3 linked regions of the Homo sapiens genome follow. The protein of the gene in region 1 purifies or fractionates together with the protein of each later gene. This does not show direct contact. Each region holds a gene or a part of one and is shown in the gene's direction. Other genes may lie near its edges.

Region 1 (2,937 bases):
AAAAAAATGTGTGGAGACAGGGGCCTTGCTATGTTGCCCAGGCTGGTCTCAAACTCCTGGCCTCCAGCATTCCTCCTGCCTTGGCCTCCCAGAGTGCTGAGATTACAGGCATGAGCTCCTGTGCTTGGCTGGAAGAAGTTATTTTAAAGGAGGAATCAGTATATCTTGCTAATGACTAGAAATAGGTAATAGAGGAAATATTTCTGTAGCCAGAACTCTAAAGCCTGGAAGAGTGATGATGCCTTAAGAAACATGTCCCTGCGTGGTGGCTCACGCCTTTAATCCCAGCACTTTGGGAGGCTGAGGTGGGTGGATCACTTGAGGTTGGGAGTTCGAGAGCACCCTAGCCAACATGGTGAAACCTCATCTCTACAAAAAATTAGCCTGGCATGGAAGCACATGCATGTAATCCCAGCTTCTTGGGAGGTTGAGGCAGGAGAATTGCTTGAACCCAGGAGGCAGAGGTTGCAGTGAGCCAAGATTGCACCACTGTACTCCAGCCTGGGTGATAGAGTGAGACTCTGTCTCAAAAAACAAACAAACAAACAGGAAATCAAAAAAAGAAGTGGATTGGGAAGGAGGTGGATAAGGATAAGGTGAAATTTGATGGCCCAACTTTAGACATTGAGTTTGATATAAAATAGCAGTTAATATATATTGCTAGTTCAGCAAAAGGAACTAAATCTAGTGGAGGCCCATATCAAGGAAGAGGGAAGAGGAAGTTGAGACAGTCACCAGAAAAGAGGAAGCCCAAGCCACTGTCCCATCACTTACTCTAGGGGTCAACAGAGGGAGGTATTCAAGGACAAAGGGAATGTTTATGTTTGAGATTCTGCAAACAGGGCAGCAAGTGTGAAGACAGAAAAAGATGGAGCCATTAACAGGTAAGTGGTGGGCAGGCATTCATTTTGGAGAATGTGGCTTTATCAAATAGGCAGGGACATGGGAGAAATCCAGTTTTATGGGGTTAGAAAAGCATGGTCAATAAAGAGATGGATGGCCAGGCACGGTGGCTCACGTCTGTAATCCCAGCATTTTGGGAGGCTGAGGCGGGCAGATCATTTGAGGTCAAGAGTTTGAGACCAGCTGATTAATATGGTAAAACCCCGTCTCTACTAAAAATATAAAAAATTAGCTAGATGTGGTGGTGCTGGTACGTGCCTGTAATCTCAGCTATTTGGGAGGCTGAGGCAGGAGAATCACTTGAACCCGAGAGGCCGAGATTGCACCACTGCACTACAGCCTGGGTGACAGAACGAGATTCCGTCTCAAAAAAGAAAAAAAAAAAAAAGATGGATAAGTTACTGCTCATCCGGGGAAGGCCAGTATTATGGGAAACAGGATGGCATCCGGAGGGTGACAACATTATAGGGGGAGATTTCAGGTTGTTTTTTTCCAAAGCTGAGGGTACTGGCAAGCCAAGGGGGAGAGGGTCTAAGTGTGAGAACCAAGGGGACTGTGCCTGGAATTCCTTCCTGAGCCTGTGCCGTAATGCCCGCCCCTCTCCCTCCTCCGTCTGCATGCAGTCATCTGGGGACCTGGAGAATGATGAGCAGGCAGCCAGTGCCATCTCTGAGCTGGTCAGCACAGCCTGCGGTTTCCGGCTGCACCGCGGCATGAATGTGCCCTTCAAGCGCCTGTCTGGTGAGCCCCTGCCCCTGCCCTTGGTGGTGGTACTGGGAGCGGGGGGCTACTTCCAGGGGCTTCTCGGCTTCTCTTCTTCCAGCCTCCTACCATCTCCTGGGGTCTCTGGTCTGGCCACTTTCCTCCCTTTGGGACTCCCTGGTATCAGAATTGTGAATGAGAAGGCAAGAGAAAGGAGATCTAGCAGAGGCCACTCATCTTCAAATCTCTGAGCCTGGAACTATAGAACTTCTTTGGCTTTGATCCCAGCCAATGTGCGTGTGGCCCCGCCCCATGGAGTCTGTTGCACCCACTAACTCTGTGCTCCCTTCCCTCTCCTGGGGCGGGGGAAGGTGTGTCTCTCCTCCAGTGGTCTTTGGAGAACACACACTGCTGGTGACGGTGTCAGGACAGAGGGTGTTTGTGGTGAAGAGGCAGAACCGAGGTCGGGAGCCCATTGATGTCTGAGCCTGCCGGAGGGCGAGGGTCGGAGAAGCGGATTGGGTCCTGGGCCTCTGTGATGAGGCAGGCACACCTGTCGGTCTTGGCTTGCTGCTAGAACTAGGGCCTTCTGCTCGCCCACCTCCCACCCCTACCTGGACGGGCCCAGGCTTGGGGACTCTGAGCTGTGTTAAGGAGAACAAGGGCAAGGAGACCTCCCTTTGTGCTCCCTCACTCCCTAATAAACATGAGTCTGATGTTCTCCAGCCCAGGGACATGTGTGTTTAGTGTTGGAATGGTTACACCCCATGTCTGTCTTCCACCTTCTGGGGAGAAAGTCATGCACCTTAGCCCAAGTTGGGTGCGGCAGGGCCACCTCTGTGTGCTATAAAACTGGGAAGCAGAAAAAGCTGGAGGGGAAGGGAGTCACCCTGAGCCCTGGCGACCTCTGCTCTTCCCATCAGTACACAAACTAGTCATCCTTCTCCCTCCTGAACAGGCATTTAATAGTCTTATTTCAGTTGGAAGCAATAGTTGGAAAATAAGTTACAGGAACAGACCAAAAAAAAAAAAATTAAAGTGCTTCAGGCTGCAAACGTAAACATAAGGGGCAGGAGGCTACCTGGCCCTGTCCCCAACCCCTGAGACAGGAAGGTCACTGTCAGGGGCCCTTAGCCATCACCACCCTCTAATCTCAGCCCTGCGGGAGGGAGGGAGGGAATGTCAGAGGTGGGAAAGAACTCAACGGGAATGAGGAAGAGACTTTGTAAACTCAGAACCAGGGTAAAGGGCCGGGGACAAGGGAGCTCTGGGAACCCTTGCCCTGGCCTAGGGGTGGGGCCAGCCCCCCCCACAGGAACTCGGGGAATACTG
Region 2 (3,676 bases), on another chromosome or scaffold:
CATGAGCTCCCCAAACTGGAGAAAACATATTTTGCTATTCTGAGACAACAATCAGAATACAGACTTTGGATTCCAGGTCACAGTTTGCTTTTTAGACAAGGTAAAGCAAAGAAAGCCACATTGTGCCATCTTCAGCTCCAGTGGCTTTAGCAGTGACTGTTTGACATAAAACATGTAAGAATTGCTTGTTGGGAAGAGTGCTTTAGGGACCCACTGTTTTCATTTCTTCTTGGAGTTTACCTTGTTTCAGATGCAGCCATGGGTAGGTCAGAGATGGATTGTTGGTGCAATAAACCCAAGAATCAATGTAGCCTCTTAATCCCATCAAGATGTAGTTTGTAGCAGCAAAGTGTACAGTCTGAAACCGTATGTTTTATCCTTATATTTTAGAGCTTTCAGCAGCCTTTTTAAGAGAGGCCACTTACCAAAGTTATTTCTATAAGCTCAAGAGTGTTTCGGTTGGTAAGTTCTTCCAGCTGAAGCCACTTTTTCCTTATAGTTAATACAAATGACTATTTTTACTTTAAAAGGCACAGCTGTCCTGGTGGGAAATGAAACCTGCAGCAGTTCAGGATGACTAATGAAAGCAATTAGCTTGAACATTTAGAAAAAATTCATATATGATCTAAATTTTTATATTATCATTTCTGTGCCTTCTAATTCCTGCATCCTTTTCAAAACATCTTTCCAGACATTAACTTACACATTGTATAAAACCGACCAAAATGATTTCCTAAAGTTCATGCAAAAAAAAAAAAAAAACAACCTAATTTTCTGTTAATATAAAAGAAACTTCAGTTTACTGACCGTGAAACAGACTATGTACTGACATCCAGGGTAAAGTAAAAGACTTTTAAATATTGGTCATTAAAGGACAGGAGCTAAGCTAGCAAAGCAAAACATCTTTAGCACTTTGCAGATCTCAAGCAGTTAACCAGGCTCTGATTCCCTTCCACTGTTTTATGAATTAATTCCAGTTCTTTTCATGTATCTTTGAACCTAAGATTATGAAGTAATTTCCCTATTAGGGACTAGAATGACTTCAGTTTTTTCATTTGATAAAAATCAGAACTGCTACCTTTCCCTTTTTTAATGATGCAAAATGTAGATGAGTGCATTAAGTTTTGTAAGATCTTTATCATTTTATGTCATTCATTGAAAATTGAAATGTTCATTCTTTTTAATGTTTTCCTATTTCCTTTTGCCTAGCATTTGACTTTGGTGTTTTAAGTTCTGTAGTTCCATGACATCATTGTTTGCTGTTGTGTTACAGAGAGAGAAGGAACCTCACCTGTGGCTCAGCTCACCCCACATCCGTTTCTCATTACGTGTAAATAAACTGTCAGAGCTGATGTTACAGCTTTTACAGTTTAAAGCATTCCCCTCGTCTCTAGTTCCTTTTTTCTTGTTTACATGTTTTGGGCACTTTCCCTCATTCACCACCTTCCAGGGTTTCATAGAAAATAACTTGTTACAAAATCAGTTCAATTCTAATGTGGACATAGTGGCATGTTCATAATTAGACCCATATAGGGGACACTGAGCTTTAAATCGTTGATTCTAAACTCTATACATTAAAAAAATTCAGCCCAGGCCCCTCAAAGCCTGAGAAAATTTAATTTGCTCTTAATTTAATGTTCCAAAACTCACTCTTGGAAAAATGCCTGTTGGAAAACTACAGGTGGGTCACATGTGGGGGCTGTCTCCGTGACACTCAGGATTCCAGTCAGAACCTAATCCTCATATCTATTGCCTACAAAAATAGACCAAGAATGTTGCTGCTCTTTTATAATCCTTTAAATATTTAACATTCAAGTTTTCTTTGTCTTAAATTCAGCCTCTTCCTAAAAGCAAAAAAGAAAAAAAAAACCTCACAGAATTGTGTTGAGATCCACCGCTCACACGCCGTACACCACCCAGTGGCTTCATTCTGGCTTAGCCGCAGAGGCAAGAAAGGGACCCCACTTGCTCCCATGCCCACCTCAAGAAAAAACATAAAACAATTTTTTTTAAAAAAGAAAAGAAATCTACCTCAGTTGACAGGATTCCACCTTTAGGGTTTCTTCAACTTTTAAGTCTTACCTGTTGAGTGTAACTTTTGTAGCATCTTGCTTTTCCAAGCAAGCTAGTGAGGCATGACAGAGCAGAAGTCTGTAAATGTCCCTGTGATGGACCTCTTTCTAGCATGTTGCAGTTTTATTTTTAATAAATTGGTAAGTGAAATGAATGTAAAGGTAATTGTGTACGTTTTAGACATGACAATGAAAATTTAAAATGTAGCTTCCATACTTGTGCATAATTCCAAAGTATTTTATTTTTTATCAATCAGTGTTAAATAGCTTTTTGTACAGGCTTCAATCCATTTTTCGAAGTGTGCTGTTTTTTAATGAAAGTAACTATAATCTTTTCACATCCCATGGAACTGCCGTTTACACATTGCAACTTTTTAAACTTAACCATATTTTTCAAAATTAACGTTTTTGGAGGGAGAAAAATCCCCGCTTGCTAAATGATACTAAACCGTTGTTTGGGCTCTTATAATTAGGTCCTGAGATTTTATAAAAATTTAGTCTGTAGCTTTTTAGGTTCTTCACTAGAGTTGGTTGTACATAAAAATAATAAAGAATATAAAGTATCCCAAAATTCTTTTAAAGTCTGGATTTTTCCGCTAATATGTACTTTAGAGAATATTTTGTTCATGCATACTTCCACGTTAAATTGAAAATGTCTTCAGCTTCTCTTGGTAAATGTGAACCATTTGTTTTTTATTGTGCTTGGGGGAGAGGGTATTTTAATATAATTTTTGCCTAAATCAAGAAGTCCCCTCTGAATGTTAATTTTTAAATGTCAAAATATGATGAACGATATATCTTGAAAGTGAGATTGCAATATGCTTAAACTTAAGTGGTATTTCAAAAACGAGAAAATTCTGGAATTTGTCATTTGAAGCTCCATAAGAGAAATTGATAGGACTTCGTTTTTGATCAGTCTGAATAGATACCAATGTCATTGTGTGGGAATTTTTTTTAACTTGTTTATGTATTATTTTGATCCATTTTTCTGTGGCATTTGGTGCAATAAAACTTTTGAATTTATCTTGAACATTTTCCTGGTGCTGCATGCGATTTGTTATATTTAATAAAATGTAGAGGTCTCATTTCTAATAATTCGTGCTGAAAACAAGCTGATTATTTATCTCAGTGGTTTTTAACCGGGGTGTTTTGGAAATGCAGGGACATTTTTGGTTAGCATAATGCCAGGTTAGGGTTACTGGCACAGAGAGGCTGGGGGCTCAGATGATAGGCGAGAGGTCCTGCACCATGTGAGACAGCCCCATGGGATGAGGACTTGTCCCACCCACCTCCTGCGTAACCCTTAAATGTCCTGCTGGACATTTATATGGCTAAAAAAGCCTGTTTATAATTAAGCAGATAATTCTGCTATACATAAAAAACACAATGTATTTTTACATGATTTTTGTATATAATGCATTCTCCAGGAATGCAATTGTTGTATAAATTGAGGGAAGATTTTTACTTTGTAAGATTTAGAATTTTAGCAAGAAGTGGTCACTTGGTCTTTACCAAGAATTGATATACTTTTGGAAAACTGCGTTTCCAATGGTAACATAGTTTGGTAGCTATGGTACCCATGGAATTTGAGTCACCAATACAGG
Region 3 (4,117 bases), on another chromosome or scaffold:
TGTTGTGAAAATTAAATAAGGTAAAATAGGGGAAATTATTGTGATATAGTAGAGTGGAAGGGACTTAAAAATCATTTAGTCAACTTGACACTTCTTCTGAGACTTTTTTTTTTTTTTTTTTTTTTGAGACGGAGTCTCGCTCTGTCGCCCAGGCTGGAGTGCAGTGGCGCGATCTCGGCTCACTGCAAGCTCTGCCTCCCGGGTTCACACCATTCTCCTGTCTCAGCCTCCCGAGTAGCTGGGACTACAGGCGCCCACCATCATGCCCGGCTAATTTTTTGTATTTTTTAGTAGAGACGGGGTTTCACCATGTTAGCCAGGATGGTCTTGATCTCCTGACATCGTGATCTACTCGCCTCAGCCTCCCAAAGTGCTGGGATTACAGGCGTGAGCCACCCCGCCTGGCCAGAGACTACATTTTATACATATAAAATCTCAAGGCATTTACTTGAAATTTCTTGACGCAGACAATGTAATATAAAATGAGTTGCAAAGTTCGGAGAACGCTAGAGCCAGCTAACTCCTTGATGGCATTGCATTGCTAGGTCTACTTTCTTGCCCTAGCAAAAATGGCAGTTTCCTTTCTGGATTACTCCCTCCTCACCTTCTGTTAGTTTCAGAGTGACTTGTTGATAACTGCCAAGGTCCCCAGAAAGCGCCTAGCCAAAAAGGTTCTTCACTTCTCTTTAAAGATGTGCACTCCCTAATACATGAAACAGCATTTTCTATTTCTTAATTTTTCTCTCATTTCCAGCTGCTGCTTTCACCGTCTTCTGGTATTTTTTTGTTTGGTCGTCCACTGCTAAACTCCCAGCTCTTCAGAATTCAAAATGAGCTTTGCATCCAAGCTGTTGTGGGTTCGAATCCTGGGTCTATCTAGCGTTTCTTTCTCCATCTGTAAAACAGGGTTAAAAATACCTATTTTGTAAAGTTGTTCTCACATGTGGGTATTGAAGAGCTTAATAGTGTGGGTGGTGTTTTAAAGGTGACGCATCCTTACAACAGGAAAGGGCTTACCCTCTTCCGCAGTTCTGGCTTCGAGGAGGTCAAGCCCTTTAAGGTGGCATCGCCCTAAGTCGCAGGAGCGGGTCTCTCCGCCCCTCCCTCGGGCCGGGGGGCGGGGCCTCCTAATCCGGAACTGAAGGTCTTGCGTAGCCGGCACCGCCCATCTGCGTCCCGGAAGGAGCGAGCTTGCGGAGCGTGAACCAGTGAGTGAAAGCGGCGCCGCCCGCCGGCCGCAGGTGCGGCAAAGCCAGTGTCATCTGCCGGTTCTCTTAGGGCTCCCGGAAAGAAGGAGGGCTAGCCGCGTGCGTTCGCGCCGCGCCTCCTTGCGTTTCTGTTCCCCAAATAGGGCCTCTCCTTCTCCCGCCGCCCAGGCCCCTGCGTGGGCTGGACGCGTCAGCCCCACACATTAGCCTCGCTGCGGCGCCCAGACTCTGCTTTGCCTCCCCGTCCCGGTCCCTGGCCCCTGCCCTGTCGCCCGCCGCCGGAGCGGTGACCGCCCGGCCCGCCGTTCTTCTGCTGCCACCGCTGTCGGCACCATGGGCAGTGAGCAGAGCTCCGAGGCCGAGAGCCGACCCAACGATCTGAACTCCTCAGGTCGGTGTCCTAACCTCCCACCCTCCTCCAGCCCGCCCTGTCCCCTTGCAGAGCGGGCTGCCTCCCAGACTAGGGTCAGGGACTGCGGACGGGAACGCACAGAAAAAGCCTTCACCGTGCTAGTAGGAAAAAAAAAAAGTCACCATCTGTCCTGGCCTCGATTCCCCTGATGGAAGTGCGTGTGACTGCAAGCTAAGCCAGCGTGGGCGCCAGTGCCCTTATTTATTTTCAAAACAGCCGTTTCTCCCAGCTACAGCCTCCTGTTTAAAAGACGAGCTAATTAATTTTTGGCTCTAGTGCTCATGGCTGATGTAGTGAGATTTGGCTCACACAGTGGATGGATTATAGGACCTCTAAGAACAGTCTGTTTCTTAAAAACGGGTGTTAGAGGTTCCTTTTCTGAAGGGATATGTGATAGGTGTCCACTTGCTTTGAACCCTTTAGTGCAAAGGTCTCCAGAAACAGCTTTTTCTTCTCAGAAGGTGTCTTGGTCCGTTTTCTAATCTTGTAGAGGTTGGCCAGACAGCAGGCACTGGTGTTTTCCATTGTTGTTCTCTGTCCATGATTTTTAGACTTCTCTAAGCGTTTGAGACAAGAATGGGAGGATTATTGTGTTTGCAATACAGTGAGTGTTCAATAAATAGATAAAGCAGCTGATGTTTAATTGAGGACCATTTGCTGCTTTTTTTGTTACCCACACGCTAGGACAGCTGGGAGTGCTTTGGTTAAGCTCCGGGGTTGCTAACGCAAATTGGTTAAATCTGGGGCCTAAAAAGAGTCGCCGATTTTAGAAGTTCTCTGTTCTTGATAGGAGCTGTAATTCAGAAATAGGCAAGCTAATAGATCTAAGGGTGTTTCACTTTAAGGTGTGACTTTCAAGACTAGTTCAGACCTACATTCTGGGGACTGGATTGGGGCAGCTTTGAATGGTGAGCAGCATCTACTAGCTTTGCTACGTTTTTCTATTTCCTTGGAAGGGCCAGAGTGTCATATCTGTTATAAGAAATATAATAATTGCCACCTTTGACATTCTTGCCTCTATGGCAGGGCAGAAACATATTTTAGGGGGAAGCGGTGTGGCATCTTTTTAATTTGTTTTCTTGCCCATGAACCAACAGCATTCGAGCATTTCCGATGTTAGAATTTGCCTATTCCCCTGTGCCCGGTACTTTACATACATTTACATATAATTTTTGCAGTAATCCCATTTTACAGATAAAGTAGTAGAGGTTAGCTAGAGTGTTTTGAAGTCCCCTTTCCTCTGGTATCTGGGGAAGGAGGAATCACAATTTATAGCAGGAAAGATTTCTGGCATGGCTTTTGTAAAATGTTAGGTAAATTACCAAAACAGGTAAATAAATATTTCTTGAAAAGAAATAAAAGCAGCAGAGATTTTTCTAGAAGAGTGAATGCCAAGCCTCCGGAGACGAGCTTCTAGGAGGCAGAACAGTTCTATGGCATCCCTGGATTAACCTTTGAGATATGACTATAATGAGCCTGGGAATATTACCTTCTAGAGCATAAAACACTTTAAAGATTCATTCTTGTCCCAGTCTGGAAGATATTTGGGGGAGAGGATGATTTCTTGGTCTAGGGAGTCCTTTATAATTTGAATCACTTCCCTCCAAATGGATTACTTTCTCCCAAGGAACCTGAATTGATCTCCCTCTTTGTCCTCCAAATTTCTGATTTTTGCCTCAGCCTAGAATGGACTTACTGGCTATTTTTGCCCTGGACTAATGCTATAATTTTAAGAGTGAGGGGGCTGTAGTCCTAGCTACTCAGGCCCAGGTGGGAGGATTGCTGGAGCCCAGGAGTTTAAATCCAGCCTGGGCGATGTAGTGAGACTTGACTCTTTTTTTTTTTTTTTTTTTGAGACAGTCTCACTGTCACCTAGGCTGGAGTGCTGTGGCATGATCTTGGCTCACTGCAACCTCCGCCTCCCGGATTCAAGCAATTTTCCTGCCTCAGCCTCCCAAGTAGCTGGGATTACAGGGACATGCCACCACGCCTGGATAATTTTTGTATTTTTAGTAGAGATAGGGTTTCACCATGTTGGCCAGGCTGATCTCGAACTCCTGACCTCAAGTGATCCACCTGGCTTGGCCTCCCAAAGTGCTGGGATTACAGGCGTGAGCCACCGTGCCCAGCCGCCTTGACTTAAAAAAAAAAAAAAAAGAGTGAGGAGGCTGAAGCCTCGGGAATAGGCCAGTCATTCGGGGGTTGAGAACAGGTTTTTTTCCTGGACTTACTAAACATAGCTGGCTTGATGTGGTAGGGTGGATAGACAGCTTTGCAACTCCAGTGTCGCAGAGATGGGCCTTGTGTACCAATAACTTGTAGATGTCTAATTCCTTTCCTAACTGTCTAGCACTGCTGACTTTGGGCAAGTCACAGTTAAATTTTGTACCCTTTATTTCTCATTTTAGAAATAGGGAGATATATATATATATCTCAAGATAGCAGGAGAATTAAAGAGAAAGTAAAAACAATCTGCCTATACTTTTGTGTGCTGAAA

The links.
Region 2: the proteins of LAMTOR4 (region 1) and FNIP2 purify together in Homo sapiens (affinity purification with mass spectrometry; one large-scale study listed by BioGRID and IntAct). This does not show direct contact.
Region 3: the proteins of LAMTOR4 (region 1) and BORCS5 purify together in Homo sapiens (affinity purification with mass spectrometry; one large-scale study listed by BioGRID and IntAct). This does not show direct contact.

The regions. Positions count from the first base shown.
Region 1 is NC_000007.14:100,151,874-100,154,810, forward strand, and holds the end of LAMTOR4 (ragulator complex protein LAMTOR4), read left to right. Parts: intron 1-842; exon of another isoform or gene 843-884; intron 885-1,526; coding exon 1,527-1,644; intron 1,645-1,976; coding exon of another isoform or gene 1,977-1,993; coding exon 1,994-2,091; 3' UTR 2,092-2,330; downstream 2,331-2,937. UniProt on the Homo sapiens protein: As part of the Ragulator complex it is involved in amino acid sensing and activation of mTORC1, a signaling complex promoting cell growth in response to growth factors, energy levels, and amino acids.
Region 2 is NC_000004.12:158,904,949-158,908,624, forward strand, and holds the end of FNIP2 (folliculin-interacting protein 2), read left to right. Parts: 3' UTR 1-3,102; downstream 3,103-3,676.
Region 3 is NC_000012.12:12,355,911-12,360,027, forward strand, and holds the start of BORCS5 (BLOC-1-related complex subunit 5), read left to right. Parts: upstream 1-1,167; 5' UTR 1,168-1,207; coding exon of another isoform or gene 1,208-1,208; 5' UTR 1,209-1,541; coding exon 1,542-1,599; exon of another isoform or gene 1,600-2,528; intron 2,529-4,117.